Linked DNA regions of Homo sapiens. The protein of the gene in region 1 purifies or fractionates together with the protein of each later gene. This does not show direct contact. Each region holds a gene or a part of one and is shown on either strand. Other genes may lie near its edges.

What was found.
Region 2: the proteins of KRT222 (region 1) and RUFY3 purify together in Homo sapiens (affinity purification with mass spectrometry; one large-scale study listed by BioGRID and IntAct). This does not show direct contact.

The regions. Positions count from the first base shown.
Region 1 is NC_000017.11:40,662,378-40,666,324, reverse strand, and holds the start of KRT222 (keratin-like protein KRT222), read left to right. Parts: upstream 1-1,147; 5' UTR 1,148-1,225; coding exon 1,226-1,321; intron 1,322-3,947.
Region 2 is NC_000004.12:70,787,964-70,791,463, reverse strand, and holds part of RUFY3 (protein RUFY3), read right to left. Parts: intron 2,659-3,500; coding exon 2,491-2,658; intron 1,970-2,490; coding exon 1,872-1,969; coding exon of another isoform or gene 1,868-1,871; exon of another isoform or gene 1,567-1,867; intron 240-1,566; coding exon of another isoform or gene 167-239; exon of another isoform or gene 1-166. UniProt on the Homo sapiens protein: ARL8 effector that promotes the coupling of endolysosomes to dynein-dynactin for retrograde transport along microtubules. Acts by binding both GTP-bound ARL8 and dynein-dynactin.

The DNA.
Region 1 (3,947 bases):
CCCTGTAAGGGCTAGAACCCAGGTCTGATTATCTCCTGAACTGTGCTCCAGATACAATTCAGCCAAAGCCACTCCACAAATAACAATAATGATAGATCCACTCTCACGACATATTTCTGTCACATCTAGCAACCAGCTGGCAAGATTAAACCAGGAATTTAGAAGGGGAGAGAGAGAACGCAGAGGCAGATATGCAGGGGTAATACATGGAACACAAGCAAGTTGTCAAAGAGCCAGTCCCAGTGATGTCATACATCACTGAGCAACCTTGGGCAAGATGCCTCAACCTCTCTGGCCTCAGTCTTTTCATCTTTACAGGTTAGAAAATGTCAGGGATTGCAAGGATTGGATGGAATGATACGCCAAATACACCCTCCGAAGGGCTCAAGTGATTGCAACGATTGGATGGAATGGTACACTGACTACACCCTCCAAAGGACTCAAGGGTTCTTTTGGTGAATACACCAAAAGGTCTATTTCTTCATCCTTGTTAAAACTTTGGAAATGTTAACTCACAACTCTCATAGTCTACCAGCACTTATCTGCAACATTTTGAGAAAACTAAATATAATTTTCTTTTTTTTTTTTTTTTTTTTTTTTGGAGATGGAGTCTCACTCTGTCACCCAGGCTGGAGTGCAGTGGCTCAATCTCGGCTCACTGCAACCTCCACCTCCTGGGTTCAAGCAATTCTCCTGCCTCAGCCTCCCGAGTAGCTGGGATTACAGGCACCCACCACCACGCCCAGCTAATTTTTGTATTTTTAGTAAAGACAGGGTTTCATCATGTTGGCCAGGCTGATCTCGAACTCCCGACCTCAGGTGATCCACCCACCTCAACCTCCTAAAGTGCTGGGATTACAGGCATGAGCCACCATGCCCGGCAATTTTCTTATGTTATGCCCCATTTCCTTTTCACAAAAATGAACTCCCCCTCCCCTCAAAGTGCTCAATTTTTACAGGGAACCAGTACAGGTTTTTGAAATTTTCCTTTCCTTCATGAAGAATCTGACATTTCTACTATACCAATAACAATAGGAGCAAAGAGTTTACCCTGTATTTGCATAATTAGTTAGAAAGATGAGAATTTCCGTGGCCTCCGAAAAAGGAGCTCTGCATCTTTAAAACTCTGCGAGGCTCCCTGCCTTCCGCGCAGACCGAGCAGACTGCCGCAGCGACTCATCCTATCGATAAGGTTCAGTTAGCCAAGGTGGAGGATGGGAAAAGAATGGAACTGTCCCAGCTACTCAATGAGATCAGGGCAAACTATGAAAAGATCCTCACCAGAAATCAGATAGAGACGGTGCTCTCAACAAGGATCCAGGTAATGATTTCATACAGACAGGCACCTTCCAGAATAAGGAGACAGTCCATGTCTACCCAATTCCTGTCCCGGCCTCTCTGAGGTACAGTATTTCCTTTTCGATGCAGCATCTATTGGGGAAGGAATTTAGCTTCTACTGCAGTGTGACTGGGACTACAGGGGGAAATACTGTGATTATATTGTTAAATTGCCATTAAGTAAGTGTTGATTGATGCATTTGATTTTTATATAAATTGTGAGGTTCCTATCATTAACATGGGGTCAACATACCATAAAATGGTGCACTCTAACCTCTTACAATCTTCAGGAAGGAACCATTCCAAATACCCTTCAAAGATATTATTGGAGTTATTTACAGAGATAATTTAAATAACATCTTTAAAATGAAAAATCTTTAAGTAAGATTTATTAGCATGTACACTTTCTAGAGATATTTCTAAAAGGTTTCTATCATCTTTTTAACGAGTTCCATTTTATACCAGATTGTTATAAATAGAAATCATCTGAGTGTGTGAACATGGCATTCAGAAACAATGATATAAATTATGACCATTGAAATTCCCCAAATTGGTAACGATTCTCCACTAAGATTTTTGCTTCTGTACTATAAGATGAGAAACATTTCTTTCCATTACAAAGCTTGTAATATTTAAGTATTTAAAAAAGAGAAAGAGAGCCTACTTAGATAAGGACTAAATCCTAATTTCATAGACTTAGTTTTAAAGTAACAATCACCTTCAGCAAGTAATTAAGGTCTCAAGTCTTTAAACAAATTTACAAACAAATATTTTAGAAACAAAGATTAAGAAATTTAGGGGATTTTTTAGTTTACCTATCATATATGGGTTCAAGTTATCTTCCAAACCCTGAAATACAGCAAAAAGTTTACTTAAGAATATCACCCAAAATTTTAAAAAAAAAAATTGGTAGAAAAATGTCAGGCCTTTATTCCATTAGCCACTCATTTTTAGTTCCATTGTAAATTTCACCTCTAGATAACATTTTCAGCCTTCATAAAGAATGATCAACATCTTAGATTAAGCAAAGTCACTGGTACAGGTAAGCATTGGGATAGTTCATTCACCTTTACAAACAGAAGAAAAAAATCAATAGATGACAACTTCTAAAAATCATAAACAAAACACTTAACTTTGCAGTAGTAGAAATATGAGTTTAGTTTACAAGTCACAGGGCCAAAATGAGTAAATTCAAATGAAAAAGCAAGACTACGGTGAGTTTTGTTTAAAGTGTCTTTTAATTTGAAACTACTTTAGAGGATTTTCTTCCAAATAACTCAGAAAGTCAGCTGAAATAAATTCAAGACAGCCTGATTAGTTATTTTTTTAAATTTCTAAATAAGCTATTTTAGTTACAGATTGTTGTATAACACCCCAAAACTCATCTGGGACCTCAATCGTCTTGGGGCATGACTGGGCTCACTTATGTGTCTGGCACTTTGGCAGGGCATTGCCGAAAGGCTGGCTCTGCTGGGACTTTCTCTCTCACTTCACGTAGCCTCAGGGTCTCTCTCCATCTGGCCTTTCTACAGGATCTCTCCAGCAGGGTATCCAGACTTCTTGCATATTGGCCCAAGGCTCCCAAAAGCATAGAAGTGGAAGCTATCAGGCTTCCTAAGACTTAGGTCTAGAAGTGGCACAGCATTCCTTCTGCCTCATTCTACTGGTTAAAGCAAGACCCAGGTCAGCCCAGAGTCAATGTAGAAGGGGATCACCCTAGGACTCATCTTGGGAGATAGACTTCTTTAGGGGCCATCTTGGGACTGTAGTTACCGAACAAGCTTAGCTGCCAGTTCCATATTTGAAAGCCACAAGACCAGCAGATACCAGCATTTTTCTGTTTTCTTCTCTCCAAAATTCCTTACTTTACCTTCTGTAGTTGCTCTGGTAGGTGTTGCTTGCTGCCTGACTTTGCCAAGTTAACACTAAGAACAGATTTTCAACAAACCAAAAGAAATGTACGAATTTTGTTCTCCAATACCTTGCCCTAAACTTTATTCATAAACTTTCATTTACTTCAACGTTTTTTTAAAAAAATCTAATGTATGATAAAATTAAATTTTTAAATGTTAAAATATATTTTTATAAGAAAATTAAAAGTTATAAATTTTGCTTCAAAATGCTACAATCAATTCTATACATTGTTCTCACTGTTCCTGGGGCCAAATGTTAAAAATTCTGTCAACAGATACTTTCTTTTCATTTCAACATCAACATAAAAACATTTAAAGCTAAATATAAAATATTCTACTTTTTTAATAGGAGAATATTTAGAAAACAATCCTTAGAGAAGTCATTTTTATTATTTATTCATTTTATTACCCAGATACCCAAAATTAATATGCCTTTTAAAAAGATCATCTTGAAAAAGGTCAATCAACAGATTTTCTTAATATGGAAGTCTATTTGTGAGCCTTATTGCCTATAACAACTTAATTCTCTAAATTACTAGTAATGTATTTCCTAGCAGTATTTACGCCCTATCCCTATACCTGGTCCCAGAATTGATCAGTTTTGGGGGTACGGCTGTTTATCTGCTTCTGCAAAGCAGCCTACAAGAAAATGTGGGGGGAAATAGCTAATTTTCAATCCTTCCTCCTAGTGATCCA
Region 2 (3,500 bases), on another chromosome or scaffold:
CCAACCTATATTTCCAACTGGTTTTTTAAAAGTCCAACAAATTCAAAGTCAACTTTTTGGTGACATTTTATATAGAATCAGAGCTTAAATGTAGTAACTTTCAGATTTCTTCCTTTTACAATTAAGTTGTGATATCGGACTTGCGACGTGACCAACTTAAAAATGCCTAATGATGTTTTGGGATCAGTTTATTTGCTGCACTATTTAAGGTCTTTGCCTGTTTCACCAAATCCTTTTCACTAAATAAAATAAAAATGACAATGAAGTGAAAGGAGAATGAGAAAATGGATAAACAGGAAACACAAAAATAGCAAGAGAATAAGTCAGCTTAATACTCAAAGAGATAAGTCATTATTCTCTTTCTGTTTGCTTTAAATTCCAAGTCAAAACATCATTGAAAAGAAATTTGATACATTTCATTTCAAAAGCACAATTTATGAACAGTAAAATCATTTTGTTAAATCATAAACATATAACTGTTTATGAGCAAGTACCTAACCATCTTTCCTAGGTAGACTGATACATTTGTATTTGGCTATGTAAGAGGTTTCAGGTTTATTTATAAATTTGCCATTAAGTTTTGAGTTAACATTAATATGCACTGCTGTTCAGGACCCTTACTGGTTAAGAATCATCTGAATATAAGAAATCACCCATTAATCCATTCATTCATATATCTACTGAATGAATGCTTGTATATTCAAGGCACTGCGACAGATCTAATACGGGAACTTAAAAGATTCGTTAACTAATCTCAGGGAGCTTACACTCGCATCGGAGGAGACATATATAAAGAGTTAAAAGGTACAGTAGACAGTGAGAAGTGCCATAAGCAGTATAGATAGATATGAGTATGAAGCTATGGGAGTTCCCAGAAAGACAGATCATTTCTAGCTGCAAAGAGGTATCAGAGGAAACTCTGGGGAGGTGGCATTTGAGCCTAAACTTAAAAATGTATCTGACGAATAAGGGAGTGGGAAGAATTAGGACATTTCTAATTGGTGGAACTATTGGGAAAGAAATAAATGGGAAAAATGGGAAGTACAGGGACCAGCAGTTTAGTTTTGCTCAAGTGCAAGAAGGGTGACAAACAGGTGTTAAGGGTAGAAACATCAAATGACCTTGGGTACCACGTCACATTCATCCTTGAAGACTCAGCCATTTCTCTTGGCTGCTAAGTTGCCAGAGAGAAAATGGTGGTTTCACATAAGCACAGAAAGAGAGTAGCATAGGAAGAAGATGTGCTTTGGGCAGACTGAATTGTAGATACTGGTGGAAGATAGCTGCCCAAAGGATGAAAACTCAAGACTGGTCTCCAGATGAAGGTAAGAGCTGGGAAAACACACTGGAGGTGACAGTGGAAGCTACAGAACTACCCAGGAGAAAGAAAAGGGAGATAAGAGAAAAGGGTTAAAGAAGGGAGAGAAAGATCCAGAATAGATCCTTGGAGGACACCTATCTCTCAGTGCCTCTATATCCCCTAGCATCCAAGTATTCAAAGACTTCAGTGATGAACAATAAAATCACAGAATTACATACATACATTTAAGAGTCCTTCCATGCTTTTAAGTATCCTTCCTCTAACACATGACTCTGACATGGATTAAGAGTTCTGATGTTCAAAACAGTCATAAAAGGCTGACCTTTCTTTTTTTTTTTTAAAGGCTAGTCAAGTGATTGACATTTCCTAAAAACATTTCAGTCATACCTTAGAAAACACACATAACATTCAACTGGCTTTTTTCTACCAGAATGTCTGATGCTAATTTGGAAGAATTTCATGTATTTTCTATTTGCCGAATGTACAGCACATTCTTTTCACTTCAGCACTGACAATCCAAAGTGTTTCATTAAAGAAACAGGACTTTTACCTTTGTTCAAGTTGTTTAATGGTAGCAGCCATCTGATTAGTCTTCTCTTCCAAGCGACTGTTTAGTTCACTTTTCTGTTTTACTCCTAAGTCTGAACTCTGTTATGGAAAATAACGATAAACAACCTGTATAACATAAATCCTAAAATACAACCACACATGCCTTTTGAATCTAATGGTAAGTGGGAAAACAGAAATGTTCATATATTTCAATATCAGTTAATCCTGAAATGGAAAAAAAAGCAATTTATCTAAAGTTAGTATTGTTATATGCAGTGTGATCACAGTAATAGTTCATCAATGTATCACATTCCAGTGTAAAAGCTAATAGAATATATAACTTAGCTGGCACGGTAGACTGCAGAGTAGAAATTACCCTATAGGATAAAAAAGACCCTCATCCTCTACTATAATGTGAAAAGTGGCCATGGTTTTCTAGAACAGCAATACAGGATCCCATGGTTGTCTGATTCTGAAAGTAGTTTACTGGCAGCTAGCATCAAAATGAGATGTGATTCTTTCCTCTTGTAATTAAAGTGTGATTCTGGAGGATCAGATGGGAGGAGGGAAGCCCCAGGATTTTAGAGAGCCAGTGAGTCTATTCCTCATATTTCCCCTACCTGCAGCTTAAAGGCAAGTTCATGCTTGAGAGCTCTGAGGTCATCCAGCTGCTGCCGAAGAGATACCAGGGCATCCTGCTTCTCACAGACATCCTTCTCCAGCATCTTCATAGCCAATTCCATCTCCTGCCTCATGCTGATCTGCATCTCCAGTTCTTTCTCAACATCCTGCCCCCAAAGGTAAGTAAATTGCTTACACTCTGTTCCTTCAACTAAGTACAAACCATAATATTTCACAGGAAAAAGTACACCAAAACTCTCAGGTCTGAATATTCTGGCAAAATAGCTTAAGCTACCATTCATTTTCAGAGACATTAACAATAATTAATTAATAATTAACAATAATAATTAGGATATACAATAACATTTGCCCAATAATGTACAAATCTGAAAAACCTGCTAAGCCAAAGATAGTGTTATTTAATACATCTAAAATATATACATATTTGAGACACTTCAGTAGATATTACGACAACTGATGGTCATATCTTATTATAGAAATATACCTACAGGGTTACAGCAGTCAGCACAAAATGAAGCAGTTGCAGTCCTCCTAAATGTGAATGTTGTTGATATATTCAAGAGCCCAGGGAACCCAGAGGACCATCTGGGTCCCTGGGGTAACATCGCAATTACTGAGGATGATGACTAGTATGGTTACGAGGCGAACAGATTTTTTTTTTTTTTTTGAGACAGAGTCTCGCTCTGTCGCTCAGGCTGGAGTGCAGGGGCTCAGTCTTGGCTCACTGCAACCTCCACCTCCCGGGTTCAAGCGATTCTCCTGCCTCAGCCTCCTGAGTAGCTGGGACTACGGGTGCATGCCACCATGCCTGGCTAATTTTTTGTATGTTTAGTAGAGACGGGGTTTCACCATGTTGACCAGGCTGGTGTGAATTCCTGACCTCGTGATCTGCCCGCCTCAGCCTCCCAAAGTGCTGGGATTACAGGTGTGAGCCACCACACTCGGCCGCTAACAGAATTTTTAGTTCACTTAACATGAAACCTCTTTT